Homo sapiens: one gene and its partners. The protein of the gene in region 7 interacts with the protein of the main gene of each other region in a biochemical or structural test. Each region holds a gene or a part of one and is shown on either strand. Other genes may lie near its edges.

Evidence for each region.
Region 1: the proteins of SIPA1L2 (region 7) and NOSTRIN interact in a test that uses a peptide from one of them, tested with the Homo sapiens proteins (one large-scale study listed by IntAct).
Region 2: the proteins of SIPA1L2 (region 7) and KCNA7 interact in a test that uses a peptide from one of them, tested with the Homo sapiens proteins (one large-scale study listed by IntAct).
Region 3: the proteins of SIPA1L2 (region 7) and KCNV1 interact in a test that uses a peptide from one of them, tested with the Homo sapiens proteins (one large-scale study listed by IntAct).
Region 4: the proteins of SIPA1L2 (region 7) and PTPRZ1 interact in a test that uses a peptide from one of them, tested with the Homo sapiens proteins (one large-scale study listed by IntAct).
Region 5: the proteins of SIPA1L2 (region 7) and PDLIM4 interact in a test that uses a peptide from one of them, tested with the Homo sapiens proteins (one large-scale study listed by IntAct).
Region 6: the proteins of SIPA1L2 (region 7) and IGSF5 interact in a test that uses a peptide from one of them, tested with the Homo sapiens proteins (one large-scale study listed by IntAct).

Annotation. Positions count from the first base shown.
Region 1 is NC_000002.12:168,858,137-168,861,636, forward strand, and holds part of NOSTRIN (nostrin), read left to right. Parts: intron 1-1,375; coding exon 1,376-1,501; intron 1,502-2,658; coding exon 2,659-2,773; intron 2,774-3,384; exon of another isoform or gene 3,385-3,500. UniProt on the Homo sapiens protein: Multivalent adapter protein which may decrease NOS3 activity by inducing its translocation away from the plasma membrane.
Region 2 is NC_000019.10:49,069,900-49,073,925, forward strand, and holds the start of KCNA7 (potassium voltage-gated channel subfamily A member 7), read right to left. Parts: upstream 2,801-4,026; 5' UTR 2,687-2,800; coding exon 2,132-2,686; intron 980-2,131; coding exon 164-979; 3' UTR 1-163. UniProt on the Homo sapiens protein: Mediates the voltage-dependent potassium ion permeability of excitable membranes.
Region 3 is NC_000008.11:109,972,972-109,977,185, forward strand, and holds the start of KCNV1 (potassium voltage-gated channel subfamily V member 1), read right to left. Parts: upstream 2,801-4,214; 5' UTR 2,648-2,800; intron 2,222-2,647; 5' UTR 1,418-2,221; coding exon 957-1,417; intron 1-956. UniProt on the Homo sapiens protein: Potassium channel subunit that does not form functional channels by itself. Modulates KCNB1 and KCNB2 channel activity by shifting the threshold for inactivation to more negative values and by slowing the rate of inactivation.
Region 4 is NC_000007.14:122,060,349-122,062,536, reverse strand, and holds the end of PTPRZ1 (receptor-type tyrosine-protein phosphatase zeta isoform 1 precursor), read right to left. Parts: intron 1,458-2,188; coding exon 1,317-1,457; 3' UTR 501-1,316; downstream 1-500. UniProt on the Homo sapiens protein: Protein tyrosine phosphatase that negatively regulates oligodendrocyte precursor proliferation in the embryonic spinal cord. Required for normal differentiation of the precursor cells into mature, fully myelinating oligodendrocytes.
Region 5 is NC_000005.10:132,270,825-132,273,954, reverse strand, and holds the end of PDLIM4 (PDZ and LIM domain protein 4), read right to left. Parts: intron 3,041-3,130; coding exon 2,862-3,040; intron 2,653-2,861; coding exon 2,489-2,652; coding exon of another isoform or gene 2,165-2,488; coding exon 2,047-2,164; intron 1,931-2,046; coding exon 1,726-1,930; 3' UTR 501-1,725; downstream 1-500.
Region 6 is NC_000021.9:39,765,683-39,769,182, reverse strand, and holds part of IGSF5 (immunoglobulin superfamily member 5), read right to left. Parts: coding exon 3,331-3,500; intron 1-3,330. UniProt on the Homo sapiens protein: Provides, together with MAGI1, an adhesion machinery at tight junctions, which may regulate the permeability of kidney glomerulus and small intestinal epithelial cells. Mediates calcium-independent homophilic cell adhesion.
Region 7 is NC_000001.11:232,511,634-232,515,133, forward strand, and holds part of SIPA1L2 (signal-induced proliferation-associated 1-like protein 2), read right to left. Parts: coding exon 2,224-3,500; intron 1-2,223.

The DNA of each region.
Region 1 (3,500 bases), on a different chromosome or scaffold from region 7:
GCACAGAATTTTGTCATTGTCATTACCAGCATACATGTATTAGGATCATCTGGGTCCTCTCACCTGAAGCACACAGTGGAGGACACAAGGAGGGAGAGCATCTGACCTTGGAACTTCCAATGTTTATGATCTGGTGAAGGAGCAACTATGAACCTTTAAGTGAGGAATGCCAAATATCCACATGATTTCATTACGCATGCTCTGCATCTGGGTAGACAGAAACTAGTGATACTGGTAGATTTTGTGTCACCCACGGAAGGTTTCTAGGATGAGGAAACTTTTATTTACATTCTTCCTTATTTCATTATATCTTGGTCCTTGAAGTGCCATGTTTGAATCAAGAATGTTCACAAGCAGTGTCATAAGAAAAATTGTTGAGAAAACTGGAGGCACTTAGATTAAATACTGTCTTTAGAGACCAGAAAGAGGGCCACATAGAAGAAGAACTAGATGTGCTCTATGAGACTATCAAGTGAAGGTCTAATGGTAGAAAGCATGGGGGAGCTTTTAGTTTTGTCTTAGGTAAGCCTGCCCCACAATGCAGTGGATTCCTCCAACGATTAGAGACTTTCTCCATCAATTGGATGTCTTCTGTCCATGGCTGTGACACCCTGGCAGGGATATTAGGGTTGGGAATTCCCATGCTGGAGGTGTGGGGGAGAGAGGGATAATGGTGAGGAGGGGGCTGGATAAGCAAGACCCTTCCAATGCTTAGATTCTGTTATTTAATTCACCCTGGCTGGACCCAGCCTGACAAGGTAATTATAAAGTTTCTAGTTCAAGGTCATATCAAGAACAGACAGAGACTAGGAGTGTATCTTTAGCTTGACTTATTATGTTTATACTCAAATGCCCTAAAATATTGTTCCCAGTTTCCAGAAGTATTCCTGTAAACTTTGTGGGTAATATAAGACCTCACCTTATCAAAGAACAAACAAACCTCACATTCAATTTCATTTGCGTCTATTGATGTTAATTCAATTCTGTTCACAATATTTAGCACTGATGGCTCACCTTCTTCGCAGACCACCAAAAATCTACCTTCTACAATCAACACTTATCCCCTTTCTTGTCCCTCAGCAGAAAATTGAGTAAAACCTCTTCATTGCCATAAAATACTAATATATTACCAAGGTTTCCTGTTCACCCCCAGAGTACAGAATGAGACACACTCAACAACTAAAACCTCCCTCTAAACTGCTTAAAGAGTTTATTCCTCCATTTTTTTTTCCTTCGGCATTTTCTGTGAATATCTGTATGAGTTAAATGCGTACTTTTCTAACCTTTGTTATTTTGAAAGTTATTCTGATATTCCTATCCAGTTGTGCCTCATTTACTAGAAATTTGCTCACATGGCCAAATGATGTATCCACAGAACAATTTGAAACTAGACCTTTTGGAAGCGAACTCCTACAAACTGTCATCAATGTTAGCAGAACTTGAGCAAAGACCTCAACCCAGCCATCCTTGTAGTAATTCCATCTTCAGGTGGAGGGAAAAGGTAACATTTAAGGAGACTGGTTGTAATTTCTTGATTGGGCCTGCTGGGTGGAGTGGCTTAAAGTAGCATCAGGGCAAAAAAGGTGTTAGGAATTCTATGTGATATTAATATTCATGCAGTTAGTTAAGAAGATAAATGTTTTTATTTTTCTTTTGAGCACAATAACAAGAGCTAGACAAAACCGAATACATTCTGTGTACACCAAACTTCTATGAGAAGCTAAAAAACACTTTTGATTTCTTCTTTCTCATCATACCTGAATTTCATCCTTTGGATGTGCTTTTACAGTAAAATTTCTATTAAATTGAAATTTTAATATTCGTTCAGACCTAAATTATAAGATTTTGTGGTATGTATTAGTCTCATCTGTTTAAGATGGTGCCTAATGCAGATAATGCATCAGTACAGCTCTGAAATGCTTGTAGCTATTTTTATTACTGATCAGAAGGGGGAACTGTAATCATCTTGTGAAGGGACAGTTTTCTAAGGCTCAAGAGCTCGAAAACAATCTCAATCATTTACAGGGTTGTGATCATTTCACTTGCATTAAGCCAACTAAAGTTGTATTTGTAAAAGTAATGCTATGAATATTACTATTTGACCTAGACACATAGGTTAGAATTGGAAACACAGGCTATAAAGTATAGTAATTGTGTAATTGTGAAAATATTAAGGCTTCAACTCAAAACTGAAACACAGTAGGGCTTAGAAATCTTTGAATTATTTATACCCCTCAGTTTAAAAACTTCCAGTCCAGGCGCAGTGGCTCATGCCTGTAATCCCAGAACTTTGGGAGGCCAAGGCAGGCGGATCACCTGAGGTCAGGAGTTCGAGAGCAGCCTGGCTGACACGGTGAAACCCCGTCTCTACTAAGAATACAAAAATTAGCCAGGCATGGTGGTGGGCACCTGTAATCCCAGCTACGGGGGAGGCTGAGGCAGGAGAATCACTTGAACCCGGGAGGTGGAGGTTGTAGTGGGCCAAGATCATGCCACTGCACTCCAGCCTGGGTGACAGGGCAAGACTCTGTCTAAAAAAAAAAAAGAAAAAACAAACAGAAAAAACAACTTGAGGAAAACAGCTACAGAAGAGTTAATTTTCATGAATGTTTATGATAATCGTGTTACAAAATATGACTTTTTATGTCATTTGAACAGGAGCATACTCATAGCTATGTGAAAATATCTCGGCCTTTTTTAATGAAGAGATTAGAGAATATTGTGAGCAAGGCATCTTCTGGTGGGCAGAGCAATCCAGGTTCTTCAACTCCAGGTAATCCCATGCCCACAATCATTTTGGCCTGGGTCCTACTGGCAGGGCACATTGCTACATTTAAATTTTAGTTTCAGAGCCACTTTGACCTGTATCTGTTTAAGGAAATTTATATTTCCATTGGGACCGATTAATTTGTTAGACTCTGTAGCTTTATGTAAAAATGGGAAAAAGTTAAGAAGAGTAGAGGGTTGGGAAAGTATCCTATGAGAAGTTGCCTCAGATATCAGATGACTGGCATCCACCTTATTCAAATGGCCTGTTATTTGCCATAAACATAATCACACCTAAACCATCGTGAGGAGCTTTGTCGCTCTGTCTCCATAGCCTCCTCCAAACTCCCATAAGAAGCCTGTCCTCTCTGCGAGACACATGGTGATCCAGGTGGTTTGCCAGGGCTTGGACTCATGGCCTACAAACTCCTGTTAGCAGCCATCTGACTTCAGTCATTCATGCACCCACACACCACACTGCTCTTCATCTTTCAGCACACACACACGTGTCACTGTACCTGCATGTTCAAGTATAATTACCATAATCTTGACTATCTAGTTTTTTAAATTAGAAATTGGTTTAAAAAAAAAAAAAAGAACTTCAGTAAAACCAGGACATTATGGTTCACACAATATATTAAGGAGTCACTGTTGCATTGTTTGAGAAACAGTTCCATACACAGCTAGGGATGATGATAACATGCACATGCCCCAAATATCCCGTATTTATACCT
Region 2 (4,026 bases), on a different chromosome or scaffold from region 7:
AACCACACAACCCAAGACCCAACAAGACTCAGTGTTTCCCCACTCGTTACGACTTAACCTAGCTCTTCCTAAACCCAATCCCCTCCCCCCAGCCTTGCCCTCCACCCTGCCCTCCCTCCCTCCCTCTAGGGAGGTGTGAGGTCCTGCAGACCTCAACTGTTCCTCACACTTCGGTGACCAGGTGTTTCCCTGGGGGTGCCCAGAGTGGAGGTGGTAGCTCAGGTACCTCCCCGTCCACCAGCCCCCCATTGGCCTTGCCCTCCAGTGGGCCACAAGGCTGCATGTCCACATGGCTGAACATCCCAGCCTCTTCGCCCTCTGTCTCCCGGTGATAAAAGTAGCTGAAATTGGAGACAATGACGGGCACTGGCAGGGAAATAGTCAGCACGCCCGCAATGGCACACAGAGAGCCCACTATCTTGCCACCCACAGTGACGGGTGCCATGTCTCCATAGCCAACTGTAGTCATGGTGACTACCGCCCACCAGAAGGACTCAGGGATGCTAGTGAAATGGGAGTCCACCCGGTCAACTTCGGCAAAGTAGACGGCGCTGGAAAAGAGGACCACACCGATGAAGAGGAAAAAGATGAGGAGGCCCAGCTCACGCATGGAGGCCCGAAGCGTCTGGCCCAAGATTTGCAGGCCCTTTGAGTGCCGGGACAGCTTGAAGATGCGGAAGACACGCACCAATCGGATGACTCTCAGGATGGCCAGTGACATGGCCTGCTGGCCCACCCCTCGCTGCCGGGCCAGCTCGGTGCCCAGTGCCACAAAGTAGGGAAGGATAGCCACAAAATCGATGAGGTTCATCACGTTCTTGAAGAAGATAGCCTTGCTTGGACAGACCAGGAGGCGTACCAGCAGCTCAAAGGAGAACCAACAAATACACAGCGTCTCCACCACGAAGAACGGGTCATTGAAGGGCAGGCGGGGTGGATTTCCAGGCATTTGGCTGGAGCCATTCAGCGGAGCGGGGAACTGCAGGGAGGAAAGTGTTCAGGGAGGGTCAGGCTGGGGCTAGGACACGGGGACAGCCTTAATCATCATTTAAATACCCAGCTCCTCTTTACACATTGGTCAGTAGCCGCTGCGCCAAGGCCCTCCGTGACCTGGTTATCCCAGACTTCCTCCCAGGATCCCAGGGATCATCCCTGGGCCGCTGACTTTCTGGTTGCCTGACCTGGTGGGTGGCTGGAGACGTGGTCCCTGCCCCTTCATGCGTGGGAACTCATGTTTGAGTAGGGTGCAACCTCTTCTCTCTCAAAGTCCCGCCTCCAGTGTTGATTTTCTAGATGGGGAGCATCCCTGCCCTGGCCCCACCACCTTGTGCCTAGCTTTTCCTTGCCCTCCACAGTCCCAGCCCAGAGTATAATGCGGCTGGGCGCGGTGGCTCACGTCTGTAATCCCAGCACTTTGGGAAGCCGAGGCGGGCGGATCACGAGGTCAGGAAATAGAGACCATCCTGGCCAACACGGTGAAACCCCATCTCTACTAAAAATACAAAAATTAGCCGGGCGTGGTGGCCTGCACCTGTAATCCCAGCTACTTGGGAGGCTAAGGCAGGAGAATCGCTTGAACCCGGGAGGCAGACCTTGCAGTGAGCCGAGATAGCGCCATTGCACTCCAGCCTGGGCGACAGAGCAAGACTCTGTCTCACAGGAAATAAAAAAAAAAAGACCTTCTCTGCAAGCCGAGCCCTAGGCCCCCTCCTCTGGCCCCTCAACCTGGCTTTCTTTCCATAGATTCCTCCTACTGTCGCCCCTCGGGCTCCAGCACCCTCAGCTGGAGTTATTCAGGGCCTGGCTTTCACCACCCAGCCGCACAGACTCCGGAGTTTTCAGGCTCTCCTTGGCCCCCCTCAGCTGTGATTTTTAAGGTTCCTGTCCTCCTACCCCTTGCATCAAGGGCCCTGCCCTCTTCACGCCGGGTTTCTCACTGACCTCAACCCCACCTTCTGATGGGGCAGGTCCTCCGACCCGGATCCTCAGGCCCCGCCTCCCGCCCACCCTGTCTTCGGCTGGCCCACCCCTCGCAGCCCCTGGCCCCGCCTTATGATTGGCCAGGTCCCCTCTGGACCCCGCCCATCTCCTCCCAAACCCCGCCCGTCTCCACCCACGCCCCGCCTCTCACCGGGCCGGCTGCGGCTGCAGCAGCAAGCCCCGTGCCGTCGCGGTCGTCGCGGAAGTCAGGCAGCGTCTCGAGGCAGAAGACGACGATGGAGACGAGGATGACCAGCACGGAGACTACGGCGAGCACGCGCGCGGCCTGAGAGCTCTCGGGAAACTCGAAAAGCAGCCACAGCTGGCGGGCGAAGGCGCGGCGGGGCAGGGGGCGCTCGGGCGGCACCGGGCAGCCCTCGTCCTCGCGCAGGCGTGCCAGGGCCGCCGCGCCCAGCCCGTAGAAGGCCACCTCTTCCAGGAAGACGTCGAGCGGCACGTGCGCCGGCCGCCGCAGCCGCCCACCGGACTGGTAGTAGTAGAGCACGGCGTCGAAGCTGGGCCGGTGCCGGTCGAAGAAATACTCGCGGCGCGCGTCGTCGTAGAAGCGGCCGCGGCGCGCTGGGTCCCCTAGCAGAGTGTCCGGGAAGCGGCCCAGCGTGCGCGCCCGCGTCTCGAAGCGCAGCCCGGCCACGTTGAGCACCAGCCGCTCGCAGCAGCCGCACGGCGGCGGGCACCGCGGCTCCATGGCGCGCGCAGCCCCGGCGACCCGCGAACCGACGTGTGGCCCCGACGCCCGGCCCCGGTGCGGCCCCGCCTCGGCCGCCTCGGCCGCCGCCGCCGCCGCCCCAGCCCGGTGTCCGGTGTCCGGTGTCCGCGCGTAAAAATAGCCCGGCAGGGCGGCTAGGGCGCGAGGGAGGGGGCACTGTGACCCCGGCGGGGCGGAGGGCGACAGGGCGACCGCGCGCCCTCTGCCGGGACGCCCGCCCTGCCCTGCCCCGCCGCCGCCGCCGCCCGCGCCTGCTCTGCGCCTTTCCCGTCCCGGGGTCCCCTTTCTCTCCGTCCTTCTGCCGCCGGGATCCTGTCCTGCGTCTCTCCAAGTTTCCGTGTGCGTGTGTTTCGTCAGAATCAGGCTTCAGTTGCAGTCGCCTCTTTTCTTTTCTCTTTCTTCTTTCTTTCTGTCTTTTTTTTTTTTTTTTTTTTTGAGACACAGTTTCCCTCTGTCGCCCGGGCTGGAGTGCAGTGGCGCGATCTCGGCTCACTGCAACAACCTCCACCTCCCGGGATCAAGCGATTCTCGTGCCTCAGCCTCCCTAGTAGCTGGAATTACAGGCGCCACCAAGCCCAGCTAATTTTTTTTCTTTTTTCTTTTTTAGTTGAGAAGGGGTTTCACCATGTTGGCCAGGCAGGTCTGGTACTCCCGACCTCAAGTGATCTGCCCTCCTTGGCCTCCCGAATTGCTGGGGTTACAAGCGTGAGCCACGGCGCCCGGCCTGGAGTCGCCCTGTTTGCACCTTTGTCTCTCACTCTCTTGTGTGTCTGTGTCCGGCTGTCCCCTCTGGGTCTCTGTCTCTTTTGGGATGTATCTCTGAGTATCTCTATGGGTCATTTATTTCTGAGATTCGTCGTTCTGGGGGCCTCTGTATGGGTCCCTCTGCCAGCCTCTACGTCTCGGTCTCCGCCTTTATTTTGACTCTTGGTCTGTCTCCGTTTATCTCTTGTCTCTCTTGGTCTCTTTGTCTCTCCTCTCTAGGTCTCTTTTTGCTCATTATCTCTTAGCCCTCCATGTCTCTGTCTCAGGGTTCCTCGGCCGCTCCCCTTTGGGTCTCCCCTTGGGGTCTCTAGAGGACTTAGGGTCTCCGGAGTCATATCTCTTGATCTCTCCCTGACCATCACTCCATGTGGGTGCTGCCACAGTCCCGGTGGCTGTCCCATCCTAGGGTCACTCTGGCAGCTGCAAACCACTGAGCATGTGCACACACGCCCCATTCTCTCCCCAGAGTTCGCTCCAGAGTCTCCACCTGGATTCTTCGCAAGACTTTCTGAGACCTAGCAGGACCTGAGCTGCGGCTATGACTCTGGCAAAAG
Region 3 (4,214 bases), on a different chromosome or scaffold from region 7:
ATTTTTCCTTTTTTTTTTTTTTTTGAGACGGAGTCTTGCTCTGTCGCCCAGGCTGGAGTGCAGCGGAGTGATCTCGGCTTACTGTAGCCTCCGCTTCCCAGGTTCAAGCGATTCTTCTGCCCCAGCCTCCTGAGTAGCTGGGATTACAGGTACGCACCACCAGCACCCCCGGGTAATTTTTGTATTTTTAGTAGAGACAGGGTTTCACCATGTTGTCCAGGGGGGGTCTCGAACTCTTGGCCTCAAGTGATCCACCCGCCTCGGCCTCCCAAAGTGCTGGGATTACAGGCGTGAGCCACCACGACCGGCCTGGATTATAATTTTTAAAATGACACTTTCTTAGTAGAAGTGTATACATAGTAAAGCTACTTTGGATTAATACATTTTATTACCCATTTTCTGGTAAGAACAGATGTTTGGCAGGTGGAACTTTTTTGTGTGTGTGTAAAGGAAATGTATTCATGAAGAAATGGTAGTAATAGCAAGGTAACCTCAGAGTTCCACAATCATTCAATCAAGGGACCAACCTTTTATCTTCTATATTTAAAACAATTCTCCATTCAAGTTTTTCAAAGTCAGTGTTCTAGGTTTGATAAATGATAATGCTGCGTGCCAAATCTTTTATCCCTATGCATGCATTTTTGGAGCATGGCGTTTCTGATTCATTTATTCAGTCACCAAATATTTATTGTGGGCCTGAAGTCCCTTGCCTTATACGTTAAATTAGCATACTCAAAAAAGGGAACAAAGAGATTCAAAAAGTTCTATTCAAAAGTTGGCGTTGATGCTTTCCAGTCCCCCACCCCCACCCCACCTGTCAGCCCAGAAGTGGCCACACCTTATTGCTAGGCCTGGCTCCAGCGAAGCTTGTGTAAAGCCTCAAATCTACCTGTGCCTTCCTCTCTTTCTCTGCCGCGCCCGCCTCCCCGCCCAGCCGCCGCGTGCCTCCGGGGTACCTGTCCCTGCAGCAGGAATCGATGCTGAGCTCATCGATGCCCCAGTACTGGATCTCCTGCAGGAAGGAGAGCGCGCACAGCTGCTCCATGACATGCAGGCGGCCGGTGCGGTAGTAGTGCAGGACATATCGGAACGCCTGCGAGCTGCGGTCGAAGAAGTACTCGTTGTCCACGGGGTTGGCATCGTCGCAAAGCTCCAGAGGGCTGGGCACGGCGGCCAGGGCCCCGGGGCGGCGGTAGGAAGCCACCACCACGGCCAGCTTGCCAAGGCGCGTGTGCGGGAAGCAGGACAGCGCCTGCTGCGAGAGCACGAAGCGGCTGCCGCCCACGTTGACCGTGAAGCAGTCCCCGAGCGCCAAGGGCTCCCCTTCACCCTCGCTGCAGAAGACACTAGAGTCCAGGGAGGTCAGGGAGCCGCTGTCCAGCGGCGAGTCCAGCAGCGCTCTGCCGCTGGAAGGCATCTCTAACCCAGTCGCCGCGGCCTGAGGGCGCCACAAAGTTGGGGACACGCCGGAAGCTTTGGTCCCGCGAGGGCGGTGGCACGGCCCCTGGTGGCGGCCGGGATTCCCCGGGCTCCCGAAGGGGTTACCTCTCCTTGGCGCACCCTCTCCACCCGCTGTGCGCCTTCCTCCTCCTGCCGCTAGGGAGCCGGGAGTGCGCGGAAGCAGCGCACAAGTGGCAGAAAGAGGAGACAGGGAGCAGAGGAAGGGTCGCGCTAAGAGAGAGGATCAGGTGAGGTCCAAGCCCGACACAGTCCCTGTGCACACTGCCGGTCGCCCTGGCCCTTCCCAAACGTTGTCACCCCGCCTCCCAACTTCGCAATTGCGATTCCCAGCCCAGGAGGTGTACAGATTGAATGACTCGCTACTTGGTGGGTGGAGGGGTTGGGGAAGGGAGGAAGGAGGGAGATGTGGGGCGGAGGAGGAGGAAGAGGAGAGAAGATGACTCTTAGCTGAACGCAAGCAAGCAAGCAAGCAAGGGGGATGGCGAGACTCACTCCTGCCCGCAGGAGACCAAAACAAAAAGTTCAGAAAGCAAAGGAAGTGGTAACCGGGTCCCTTCCAACTTGAGAATTTATATTCCTCCCTTTTCTTTTACTGCTGCTTCATAGGCCTCCCCCGGGGTGTTCGCTGGGGGTGTGAGCAGGTGGGGGAGGGTTCTCTGGGTGAGGGGGCCGCACCATTTTCTCCCAATTCACTCTCATTCTAGTCTGATGATCACTGACGCTCCATTTTCTTCCGCCGTCTCCCTTAGGTTCTGACCTCCTGGTTGAGAAACAAGAATAATTAATGATGACTTTTTATTGAAGACCCAGTGGGTCACTAAGAACTAGGAGTGTCACTGTCAGCTCCCACCCTGTCGAGGGTCCACCTCGTGTTGAGGCACTTTTTTGAGGCACCCTTCCTTTTAACCATTTCTGTCCCTACAAGTTTCCCGGAGAGCAGGTGTTCTGAGCACAGCGGAGCTCTCATTTTAGAAGGAAAGGCAAAAAGACAAGGAATAGAACAAGCGTGGGCTGGGGCAGGAATTTAAATAGTAACGACGGCCTCCCTCGGTAAAGGGAGAAGCCGAGGCCAGCGCCCAGGTGAGACTAGAAGTGTACCCACGGGGCCCCTGGAAGCTGCGCTCCAGCCAACCTGTTGGACTCGGGGTGAGGAGGTGGGGGTGGGAGGGAAGAGCAAGTGACTCACCTGCAGCTCCCGGCACATCTGGTCTGCGCACAACCGGCGCCGCAGGTAACGTACTCTTCTTTTGATCCTCTTAGTCTACACGTGAGGTCTGACTCGACCGGTCCAGGAGGGAAACTGTGTTCCAGCTGAGCTCTACCCAGCGCCTGCTGCCTTGCCTTGCCCCGCCTCCACCTCCCTCCGGGCTCCTGGCCCCTGCGCTTACGCTAAGCGTGTCCGCCCCGCCCGCTCTAGCTCTGAGAGCCACTCGCCCAGTGCTTCCAGCACCAGCAGAGGGGAGTGGCAGGATCTAAGGGAGGGAGGTGAGACGGCGGGGGTGGAGGCGGGGGGTAGTGAGGTGCCCGGTGACACTCAATATTACATTCATCCTGAATACACTTGCAGAATTACTGCATTTGATTCCCGTTTCCCCGGATCTGTGCTTTTGTAAATGCTCCAGAGCAAAATTTCCAACTGGATCAGTGTGCTAAACTTGAGGTTAGGGCAGTTATATTAACTGCTTCATTTGGCATGGTTCAAGGTTTTCACATTTTCAGCAGGCATCTCAGAATCATGCATTTTTCAAGTCTTTGCCAGAGAGAGTGAACCACACTCATCTTCGTTGTTTTCTAGTATGTATATATAGAATACATATTGGAAAGCATATATTATGGATACACTTACATATATAAGTATATATTAGAAAGCATACACACACACACGTATTAGGTAGTATATATAAAGACATAAGCAGGCAGCCTGATGTAGTAGAATAAGCTTTTTCATAGATTGGACAGAAACGTGACTGTTTAGTTCTAGCTTTGCCAACTGGCTGTGGGACGTCTAGCTATCATTTACTTTGAGGGTCTCAGTGCCTTCCTCAGTGAAATTTCAAGCTTTAATGAAAACACCCAACATTTAATGGGTGCTTACTTTATGCCAGGAAATTTGTAGGCTCTTTATTCATGCAGTACCTTATTTAATCATAATGACAACACTATGAGGTAGCATATATCCATTTTACAGAAAGGAAAAGTGAGGCACAGGGAAATTAAGTGATTTGCAAAGGGCCACACAGTTCAAATCAAACCCAGGACTACATGTCAGAGGCTGCCTTCATAAACAAAATTCTAGAAACATTATTTTTTGTTGATAAATCAGTGTGATTGTTTTTATTTTCTTTGTTTACAAGTTTCTAATGAAGGACAGGAGTTTAATGAGGTATTTTCATCACTCTTTCAACAAAAGTTTACTGAGCATTCACTATATACTGGCACTATTCAAGGTACTTGCGATGTATCAATGAAGAATAGACAAGATCTCTGTTGTTGTGGAGCTTATAGTAATCCTCTGAGAATAAATGGGGGACTTCAATAAACTTTTTTAAACTATAATATTTATAAGCATGGTTCTTTTGACAGCCATCCATTTGGTTAACTTTTCTCCTTAAAGAACTCTTCCATACAGTAAATACAGAAATGCTAGAATTATCCCAGTCAACAGTTCTTCATTCTGTATAGGTACTGTATCGTTATTATTTTTTAATGTAGCAGAGCTTTCCCCTGCACAGCAAGAAAACTCCTCCAGCATC
Region 4 (2,188 bases), on a different chromosome or scaffold from region 7:
TAGACAGCTGTCTTCTCATCATAATCTCACACATCGAAAGGGGTGAGGGGTCTCGCTCAGGCCTCTTTTATAAGGACACTAATCTCATTTATGAGAGCTCTGCCCTTATGAACTAATCACCTCCCAAAGGTCCTACTTCCTAATATTATCACCTTGAGGGTGAGGGGATAAATTGTCGGGAGACATAAACATTCAGATCATAGCACTCCCCAAGCCAAAAGAAATACATAATTGTTCTGTTCATTAAGTAGTAAAGTTCAAATAATTTAATAGTAAAAGTTTGTGCAGTGTCTGCACATGTTGCTGTGTTTTCCTCACAAATGGAAAGTTTTGTACTTCCCTGTGCACCTCAATGCACAGTTTGGGACCCACCACTCTAAATCCTGTCCCATCCTACTAGCTGTTTTTTGTGTGTGTGTGTGCCATCATCATAGGGGGACCCACATCCACAATTTTCTGCCACACACGCTTCAGCACAATGCTCCACAAGCAAACACAAATTAATGGCAATATTTATATTTATTTTTGCAATTCCTTGGATAAAAACCATTTGAACAATGTTTGGTAAGGTGTTATTCTCATAAAAACTTCTTTCAAAATGAAGGTATTTCTATTTTCCACAAAAGTTAAAATTACATGCTGAAACAAAGTTAATGACTTAGGTAACACAATACAATGTCAGAAAACTGGTAGAGTAAGACCAGCTAATGAACTACGTCATTAAACTAAACAATTACACAGAACTAGAAAACTTGACTCAGTAGTAAAATATAAAAATCTACAATTATAAATATAAATTTGGTCCATGGAGACACTAGGGCAGTATTTACAATAAGTAACAGATTATTTCTACTTTAGGTGAATACTGCAGTTGTAAAATGTTGAATATCATATGGAAGAGTGTTTTATTTACAGGCTACTGTATTAAAAGTTATATTTCTAGCAAACCTGATAATTGCTACAAATACAGCTAAAAATTTGACACTAAAAACAAACATTTTCTGTAGTTTGGAATTCCTAACCTCTATAAATTGAAATTTTCTGTTAAAATCAATACAGAAAAAAATACCACAATTCCATTCTTAGAAATACTGTAAAATTCAATCATTTTAGTTCAAACATAATAAGTAAATTACAAGTCTTGCAAAAAGGCACACATTGTTAATGATATAAATTTGGCGGCAGAATCCTATGTCATGAAAGTTACTGTCAGGTGATGGGAAATCAACAGATAACAGAACTAGACTGATTTTCCTGCCTAATTTTAGGAAGAGGAAAACAATGCTCAGATGTGAGTTCCCCCACCCCTTTCTGTGTTAAACTAAAGACTCTAAGCTCTCAGCTATATTTCCATCAGGCAATGCTGCACCATTACTGTCCAGAGAGGTGGATGGATTCTCTTCCTGCCTTGTGCTCACAAGGCTGAGGATCACTTTGTAGAGAAACTGATACTGCTCCTAGAGAACAGAAGATGGGAGGTAATAAATGCGAAGCTCAGTGAAGACATACATTTGTAAAAAGAAGAAATATTTTTAGACACACTTCAGCACTGTTCATGAAAGGGCAATGTGTTAAGGGCACTGTTATACTCAGCAGATGCACACAACCTATACTGATGTCTCTTCTGATTAAATTAACGTTGCAATCGGCAGACCATTCACTGACCTAGAAAATTAACCTACATACATTTGCCAATAAGTACTTAATTCTTATTCATGAAATCAGAAGGTGATGAGACAGGGTTCTGTTAACTTGTGGGCGAAACCGTTTGGCACTGGACATCTGTAACTCACTCAGAAACAAGTTTCTTCTTTCTCTACTTGTTAGAAAATCCATTGGGTCTGCCTCTTTACGGAAAGATCTCAGGAATGACTGTACTGTTAGCCCAGGAACCCATGTAGAATGCAATCCTTCACTGTTCACCAATAAGAAGAATTTCACATTCTATCAGCCCAACTGGTCCTATGCCCTGCTATGAGCAAAGGTAAGTACCTTCTCTGCTGTGGTCTCAGAGCAGTGGCACATAGAAGCATGAAACAGTTTTTCTCTTACAGATGCCATCTCAGGCAGTTTGGGGAGAGGTAGCTACAGAGAACCTGAACCAGTGAGCAGCATCATAGCCGAAAACCATGAGGCCTACATGTGACGCAGTGCATAATTAAATGCTTTCGCGAACTGTGCATCTCCA
Region 5 (3,130 bases), on a different chromosome or scaffold from region 7:
ATGCACAGGAAGTGCAGATCACAGTCCTCTCTGGAGGAAAAGACTAATGCCAGTTCTTCCCAAGTGAGTCCCTAGATTCAGGGCAACCTGGTCACAGTTCAGAGGTTTGCTTTTCCAGAGCCTGAGGCATGCAGTCTCAACTTCTGACAACTGGAAATGTAGAGGAATAGCTTTGACAGGTTTGTAAATGACCAACAAGGAGGAGAGATTGGCTATTAAACTCCAACACAGTAGTAATTATACATTAACAGGGAAATAGATCAGATGACCAGAATCCAGTAACAAAGATTCGTACAAAATTAGGAAAAGTTCCTACCAATCATTAAGAAGAAGTTAAATAAGCCTTGGAAAAAAATCATGAAGGGTTTGGGGTAACTTACACAAGAACTGCTCTTTTGAGAGTGAGGACCACTCTGTTCCCTTAGTGCTAGGCACCCAGCAAACACACCATAAATGCTCAAAAACTGAATGTTCATCACTGGTAATCAGAGAAATGCAAATTAAAACAAACGCATATGACATTTTACTTAACAGACTGGCAAAAATGAAAAAAGAAACATAATATCCTGAGCTGGCAGGAGCACAAGGAAATGGGTCTCGTGCTGATGATGAATGTGAATTGATAACAGTTTTTTTGTGATTTGCGATAGCACAAAATTGAAAACAGCACAAATGTACGTTACTCTGGGCTCGCTAAATAGGCACTAAATAAAACGAGTCAGTTTCTTCTCCCGAGCAAGTAAACTAGAGGGTAGATCCACGCGACCCGGAGTCTAGGACACATCCTCGGGAGTGAACAGCCACAATTCACAGACGATGTGTGCAGCCGGGGCATGAAAGGCCCAAGGCAAACACACCACGAGGTAAACGCCGGGACTCTGAGGAGAGGGGTGGAAGCCGGGACTTCGAGGAGGGGTGGAATTGACTTAGAGACAGGAGGGAGCCTCTTGGAGGGCAAAGCTGCCCTGGGCAAGTGTTCTTTTCTTTCTAAACCTTCCTTCTGGTCTCTGTCTGGAAATTTAAGCGCGCCCCCTGGTGGGGGAGAGAGGAAGGGGAAGAAAAGGGGGTCTCGGAGGAGAATAAAGTGCTCGTGGGTGGAAGAAACCTGGAACAGAAAATGCCAGAAAAACCTGGAACAGAAGTGCAGACGGCCCGCGGCGGCCCCGGTGATCTCCACACTCAATCACCCTCTCCAGGGGAGCGATCGCTCCTGAGGCTGCCAGCACCCCACCACCACCCCCAACCCGCTAGTGCCGATGACGGCCACAGAGGCCTTTCTCGCCCCCAGCTCACCTTTGCACACACAGTTCCCCCGTGCAGAGTTTGTGCCTCCCTCATCTCTTAGTTCTCAGCTAAGACTTTCCCTGACCCCACCCAGGTCATACCTCCTGTCGTCGCGCCGCACGCAGCATCCCAGACCTCACCTTCGTATTACTAGAGCTGGCCCGTTGTGATTCAGGTCTGCCTTCCACCCAGGCTGTGGCCCCCTTCAGGGCAGCATGGTACCCGTCCTGCTCACTACTGCACCCAGAGCCTAGGACATGCCTGGCACCTAAGCAGATACTACTGTACTCGGGAGCCATGCATGGCCTGCGCAGGAGGGTGGCAGGCCAGGTGACAGGTTCAAGGTGGAGCAGAGGAGCTTTATTAGAGGGACAGGGTGAAACATATTTACACCGGCCGAGCAGGGACCTTAAGAAGCAGGCGTGGGAGCAGGGTCCCAGCTCAGACGAGTTCCACCTTGGCATTGGGGTACACCGCCACCACGTCGTAGCCCTCGGGCGGCTTCACGCGCGCCTTGGCGTGGCTCTCACAGTAGAGCCGCTCGTCCAGAAAGAAGTAACCACGCTGCTTGAGGTTCAGGCCGCAGTCACTGCACATGAAGCACTCGGGATGGTAGAGCTTGTCCCGTGCCTTGACGATGGTGCCCCTGATGGGGGGAACGAGACAGGACAGCGTCGAGTGACTGATGGGTTCACGACTGCGCCCGCATCCAGGGCCCTGGAAGGCTAGGGTCCGGGAGGGGCAGCGGGGGCGGTTACTCACACGATGCCGTGGCCGCAGCGCGTGCACTCGGGCAGCCCCTGCAGGCCGCTCAGCGGAGCGCCCAGCTTGCTGGCCGTGGGCTTGAGGTTCCGGGGGCCGCCAGGCCCGGGCCAATCCCCTGAAACCCGGAGCGTAGGTGGCATGAACGGGGTGAGGAGGTCAGAACTCCATTTCTGCGGGGTGTTTGGTTGGGCGCCAGACGGGCCATCGGCACCCGAGACTGGGGAACGGGTTTGGCGGGCGTGGGGTGAGGGGCAGCGACAGGGGGTGGAGAGGGAATCGGGAAGCCAGGGCGTAGCAAGGTTGTAGCAAGGGCGTGGGACCGGGCCGCAGAGACCGAAGAGGGCAGGTGACTGCGAGGCGGGACGTGGGGTCGCTAGGGGGCAACCTGGGCACTGCAGGGAGTGGGAAGGCAGATGGGGACAGGTGGCAGGCGTCTTACCGCCCTCGCCGGCCTCTAGCATGCCCTGCAAGTAGCGGAAGGAGCCTGACTGCTTGGGCTCCGCGGCCACGGGCTCGGCTGGCTCCCGCAGCATCCTGTACACCTCGGAGCCCAGGTCGACTCTGCAGTCCCGGCTCCGCGGGAGGCCTCTGGCTGGGTCAGCGCTGGGAGGGAGAAAGAAATAGAGGAGGAAGGGATGCAGTTCCAGCCTTCACCCTGTGGACTTGGGGTCTGGTAAGGCTTATGAGTCAGAATGCAACCAGCTAAGACCCAAGGATCAAGTGTCAGGGGTCAGAGTGGGACTGGGTGAGATTTGAGGGATCAAGGGTTAAGATGGGTTCTGGGCATGGCACCGAAGGCATCTCTGTGCTACCTGGGGGGTGGAGACACATGCAGGGTGCTCATCTGGGCTGGCAGGGTGGCCTCGCTGCTGCCATTGTGAGGGACTGGAAAGCGAGGGGGTTGTCCATATGGAGATCCCAGGCTTGGTCTGCCATCTTCTGGCCCAGTCCCGGTGCCTGAGGGCCGCCTGCTGGTTGTTGGGCTGCCGTCCTATTAGAGAGAGGCCTAAGGCACTGGGAGACCCTCTGGCCTCCAGCCATTCCTTGTTCACCCCACCCCCACCCTGCTGTGCTGTGCCAG
Region 6 (3,500 bases), on a different chromosome or scaffold from region 7:
AATGTTTGTTACACAGTGGAATCTGAAACTCTATCAAGGAACTTTCATTTTCTGTTATGTTGAAACCCATTGCACTATCTGGCACTTTGAATGGACCTTTTATCCTTGCATGATTTTGTTACACTTCAGTCATCTGGAAAATTCTGAGGCATGCAGACCTTCCCAATGTATAGTGGAAAGCTCTCCTGTGCACTTGTGAGAAGAAGGGTGAAAAAGGCAACAATAATAGGAATCTTCATATTATTATGAAAACAATCATGACTTCATAGACCACCCTGAAAGGATCTCAGGGTACATCAAGGAGTCCCTAGACTACAGTGAACTGGGTCGGCTCTGAAAGATCTTTTTGCTCTGAAATGTTAGCTTCCCAATTATTCCTTCCTGAATATTCCCTTGGAATAAGAAAGGCACTTTTGCTAATTCAAGGGCTACTGTAAATGCAACAAGGAGTGGAGAAAGGGTTTGTCCCTTGAGTCTAAAGGGTTTTGTGTTTGTTTTGTTTGACAGAGAGACGGTTTAAGATGACAGAACTGGGAGGAATGATATTGTCTCAGTTAATAACAGAAGCTCTTGAACTCAAGTCCTTGCAGCCCTCAAAACATAAGAGGTCTAGAGTTTGGTGTGTGATTGATTGGTGGATAAGGCAGCAAGTGGACCAACTCAGCGATCTGAAGGATTTCCTTTTTCTGTATACACTTGGGATTCCACTTTCCCCCACTGGCTTTCACAAAGGTTAGCCAGTAGCATGACAAACCCTTTATACAAAAGTGATACTAGAATATTCACATGGATTTCAGATGACTCAATTTGGAGTTATGTCATCTCTATTTTGTTGACATATAAGGAGGTGAAAAAATCATAGAATAATTCATGGTTGTTTCCTCTTTTTTCAAGATTCTTTCTCCCTTGAGGGAGACCCTGTTGCTCAGAGAACATTTGCTCCTCTAGGAACTAAGTGCCATTCAGAGCAATGAGATGAGGATAAAGGGATGAAGTTCAGGCCAAGCTCTATGGGTTCCTCTCGCAATATCTTGGAGAAGTCTTTGCCTTCTCTAGATGCTTGCTCTTTCATCTGTATTAAAACCAAAAACTACCATAATTACCAATATATAAAAAGTCAGCGGGATTCAGACAAATTTGTAGACTTGTGACTTTGGGAAAAGATGCTACAAAACCACATGGTTTCTGAATGTGATGTGTCATAAGTACAGCAGTAATAAGCCATGCCTGTGATCCTGTGTTTCCCTGCTCCAGGGATGCCCTCCTCCTCTCTTGCTTTCCCATTCTGTCTACCATCTACAGACCTGGAAGGCACATCTCCAATGGCACCTTCTCCATGAAATCATCCATGAAGGCTTTATTGACTCTGTCAGCTCCCCTCCCGACTGGAACCTGAGCTTGCCTCCCTTCCATCTCACTTGCCAGCATCTGGGTGGCTGGCATCCCTATTATTTGTGCAACTTGCATTATCCACTCTTCTTGTGAGGTTCTAAAGAAAGAAACTGTGTCTTATTCTATTCCTCTTTGAGTCACTCTTAAATAACCAACACAATGGCATGCTTTTATTGGGAGCACAATAAATAATAGCAAATGGCCATACAGTGATTGCTATGAGCCAGGTGTGGTAAAGGCTTTACATAGACCTACTCATTTGACACCACGGCAGCCCTATGATGAGGACACTAGGACTCAAAGTCATTAAGTAATTGTGTCCCAGGTCACACATTGTCATAAAGCAGTAACATGGACCCAGGCAGCCAAGCCCCAAGTCTGCACTCCTGACCACTAGACCACTCTGGCTCCCAACTTAATGTGCAGGGAATTGAATCAGACAGGACTTTGGAGTCATCAAACCATCTTTAGCCATTTTTTCACCTGATCCACACAACAAACCCATGAGGTGGGCCGGGAAGATTCATCTCCAGGTTAAAGATGAAGAAATTGAGCCATCTCAGGGGTCTCTCTGATAGATAACTGATGAAGCCAAAACCAGAATTTATATCTTTGATTCTTTTTTCCTCTGTTCTTTCTCTTATATCACAAATTATCATAATAAGAATCTGGTTATGCAACATAGGCCAACAGTCCTAAATAGCCTTATAAAATCACTTATTTAGAAAATAGAATTGTGCCCCTAATTAAACTACACAAAATTAAAAACACACAAAAGTAAGACACACCAATTTAGCTAAATTTCTAAAATAAAAAACATTTTTTAAAACACAAATAGAAATAGGTAGACATGTCTCCACCAAAGGCTATCAAATCTGATTTAATAGCAACATAAATATGAACAAAATCTTTGGGAATTTCTTCCAGACAAGTAAATATATAGAGATAAGAAATAATTTATAAGATATAATATATTCTCTTATAAGAAATGCTGCCATGGAAATCAGGCACTCTATATCTTTAAATAGAGTATAAATACACTTTTAAAGAATGCAAAGTGATTAAATTTTGGTAAGACTATTCCAAATCTTTGTAAAGCATCCTTTTACTTTTTTACTGTGTAACATTATCTTCAGCACCTCCAAATTACCTCTAAAATGAAAAATAAGCTATTATTATAAATTTTGTTTATTCTTTTCTTTTCTCTCAATGACTTGATATATTTGGTGAACACACAACTTTGACTATAATGACTATCCCACTGTAGTTGGAGGCAGGGTAGAGAAATAAGTTGGGGGGATTCTGCTGGAAAGAGGAAAGAGTTAAAGCATGCTTCAGAGTTGATAAATGATGCAAGCAGAGAAATATAGTCATGTATATGGAAAAACTAGAGAAAGGGCAGTGATTGACAACTGTCTCTAAATCAAAGAAAAATGACTGCAACTGGCCCTAGAAGAATTCCAGGATACGTTTCCAGAAAGGCTGTTAAATACTAAAATGGATTCAAAGGGGAAGTGATAAAATCTGTCTCTATCAGTCTTAACCAGAAAAAAGGAAAGCAAAGATGGAAGGAGAAAGAGAATGAAGCAGGAAAAAGGGAAAGATGGGAGGAAGTGAGGAAGAAGGGGGATAAATCAACGAAACAATAAACATTAGTCCATCCAGAATAATTCTAAGCCTATTGCCAACTGAAGGCTAGAGCACACAGGAAGGAAGAGAGGGGGAGAAGGGAAGAAGAAGTGAGGAGGTAGGGAGAGCATGAGGGAGGAAGGAGGCGACAAATAAATCGCAAAACATTCATCAGTTCAGAATAATTGTAGGTCAACACCAACTGAAGGTAGACCACGTCTGCCATCATACGCGGCATGAACTTTAGAAGGTCCTTCCTGCCCTCTGACATTTAACCTGATGGACTTCAGAAGCCACCTGCATACACACCTTGGACGGTAAGGTAAGCAGATCCATGCAGGCGACTGTTCTGGAGGCTGCATCTGATGTTCCCCGAATCACTGGGCTCCACATTGTGGATGATCATCTCCGAGGTGAAGTTCCCGCCCTGGTCGTACCTCTGAGAGGTGAAGCGGTCATTGGTGATGATGGGCTCCATG
Region 7 (3,500 bases):
ACAGAGTGACCTCCTAAGGTCTGTGTTACCCACCCTCCCCAACCCACTCCAATAAAACAAACTACAGTCAAAAATTACACAAATATTCTCAAGACAGAAACCAATACTGATGAAATTAAAATCTAAAACCATAAAAACCCTAGAAGAAAACCTGGGCAATACCATTCAGGACATAGGCATGGGCAAAGACTTCATGACTAAAACAGCAAAAGCAATGACAACAGAAGCCAAAAATGACAAATGGGATCTAATTAAACTAAAGAGCTTCTACACAGCAAAAGAAACTATCATCAGAGGCAACAGGCAACCTACAGAATGGGAGAAAATTTTTGCAATCTGTCCATCTGACAAAGGGCTAATATCCAGAATCTACAAGGAACTGAAACAAATTTACAAGAACAAAACAACCCCATCAAAAAGTGGGCAAAGGATATGAACAGACACTTCTCAAAAGAAGACATTTATGCGGCCAACAAACATATGAAAAAAGCTCATCATCACTGGTCATTAAAGAAATGCAAATCAAAACCTCAATGAGATACCATCTCACGCCAATTAGAATGGCGATCATTAAAGTCAGGAAACAACAGATGCTGGAGAGGATGTGGACAAATAGGAACATTTTTACACTGTTGGTGGGAGTGTAAATTAGTTCAGCTATTGTGGAAGACAGTGTGGCGATTCCTCAAGGATCTAGAACCAGAAATACCATTTGACCCAGCAATGTCATTACTGGGTATATACCCAAAGGATTATAAATCATTCTACTATAAAGGCACATGCACACATATGTTTATTGCAGCACTATTTACAATACCAAAGACTTGGAACCAACCCCAATGCCCATCAATGATAGACTAGATAAAGAAACTACCATACATATACACCATGGATACTATGTAGCCATAAAAAAGAATGAGCTCATGTCCTTTGCAGGGACATGGATGAAGCTGGAAACCATCATTCTCAGCAAACTAACACAGGAACAGAAAACCAAACGCTGCATGTTCTCACTCATAAGCAGGAGGGAGAGCTTTAGGACAAACACCTAATGCATTCAGGGCTTAAAACCCAGATGATGGGTTGACAGGTGCAGCAAACCACCATAGCACAAGTATAACTATGTAAAAAACCTGCATGTTCAGAACATGTATCCCAGAACTTAAAGTAAAAAAAAAAATAAATAAATAAAAGTACAGTGAGCTCCCAGCTATCTGTGCTAGAAGCAGAATAGTTTATGCACTGAGAAAAAGGAGGAGGAGAGTAGCGGGGCCCACCCTCTGCCTCCTCAGGCACTCTGTGAGGTTATCCCTGGATCCCTGGGAGCAGGAAGAGGGCTGACGGGTGAAACTGAAGACAGAAAAATATAGCTCTGAAAAGTAAGCTGCACTATAATGAAGGCGTGAAGGACACCAGCTGCACCCAATAAGAAGGTGGTGAGAGGTGCCGGAGTGTTTTCCTCGGCATGTGTTACTGACACATGTGGAACCTGTTTCTCTGTAGGTCTTTAAATCAGAGAAGATTCTCCTAGCCCTGGGATAATTAGGGACACTTATTTAAAGGTTGAGGATTCAACTACATGACCTCTGAAGAATGCATCCTTCAAGCCTGAAGATATACGTAAAGCAAAAACCATTTATTTGACATAGAATTAAATAATTTATCACTTGTGTCTTAACATTTAAGCCCATCTATAGAACTACATGAAAACAAAATTTGTCTGTTGTGGTAATTCAGGCATTCTTTCAACAAAGATTTAACATGTCCAACACATACAGCAATGCTGGAGAAGCAAAGTACAGAAAGATTAGAGAGGTGAGGGAAACACAGAATTTTCCACTGTAAGCAGCATAAGAGATTATTCAGAGGAATAGGAGGAGGACAGAATTAATCAGGGAAGACTTCTTACAAGGGATGAAATCTAAATCAAGTCTGAATTTGTGATGATCACAAATTGGCAGACAAAGAATGACAGAAAGAGAAACCAAAAGGGCATTTACACATTAAGGACTACCCATAAACAAAGGCATGGAATTGCAGTTTTCTAAAGAAAAAATTAGCCTGGAAGCTATGGAGGGACCATGATGGAGAACAAGGTCAGGCCCAGTGGACTATGGCCTTGGACACTCTGAGGAAGGTGCTCCAACACAAAGCAAAACATTGTGACTGGTTCTTAAAAAACTACTCCCGAGACACATGCAAACGCCCATGGCTCTTCCTTACCTTTCCCATAGAAGAATTTGCGGTAATAATAGGCCCCAAGGTCAATGTGTTCTATGATGTAGCGCTTCACTTTCTCCCTGTGAATAGGCTGGTTTTCTCTGGGCACTTCCAAGACGGAGACACCTGCATTTGTGCAGTGAGAGCTGAGTGACGATTCGAAAGAGCAGCTTTCCCCAGAACTGAAAGAGGATGAGTTGGCTCGAGAGAGCGCAATCCGCCTGTCGCCTTCCCCTCCAGTCTCATTTCTAAAGTAAGGACAACTAAGGACGAGGTCGTTACTTTTCCCATCACCCTCATCGGCATCCAGGTTCTCTTTGGAGTTGAGGTCCTCCTTGCTCCCTAAAGGGGACTCACAGTTGCCTGTCTGGCCCGTAGGCATCTGAGTCTGGGATGCTGCAGATGCCCCAGTGGTTATGTTTTTCCTTTTCCCCACATTAGCCCTCGTAGCCATGGCTTCGTTGATATTAAACAAAATGCTCTGGACATCATAATGTGCAAAACATCGCTGACAATTCCAAGGGCGAATGCCCCTCTCCAGTCGGCTCTCCTCCAGCTCAGACGTGAACTTGAAAGTTTCGTGCTCACTTTTAACAGTTCGAAGCTTTCGGAAGAGAGATGTTTCCACCGACTCTGATTTCAACCTCCGTTTGAAAGGCTTGTCCCTGTCTCTCCCCATCAGGAGGGCACTGTCCACATAATCTAATCCTGAGATGCGGACAAATTCTCCCCTAGAAATCTGTGCTGCTGCATGAAGGCTCGGAGAGATTGCAGGGTCACAGCGGAAAAATTCAGGGAACCCAAAAGGGACCATTGCTTTGTGGTCATAATTTTCTACTCGGTACCCTCTGAGCATAGCAAAAAAGTTTTCACCAGATAAGCCTTGCCTGTCGATGGATGAAGTACTTCCATACTCCCTGTGCAGGGCAGCCCCGGTGTTGGGGTTGACTGCATTTTGGTCTAAGACATCTTCGGCATCAATGTCACTGATAGTGACATCACTATTGCTCCTCTGTCTTATGGGGTGAAGTCCTCTTTGGGGGGAATGGACAAAGATGTCTCCGATTGTGTACTTGGCCTCCACGAAGTCCAGATCGAGCTGTTCATCTTGCTGACCTTCACTCTGGTCACTCTGCCCATTCTGCAGGACAGAAGTGATGCTTTCATAACTGGTCTGAGACCGGCTTTCCCACAGTGCCTTGCATGTTAGCTCCTTGGAACAGTCCTTTTTAGGAGGCCATTCAGACACCCTTGCTCTCACACCCATCTTGGGCACAGCT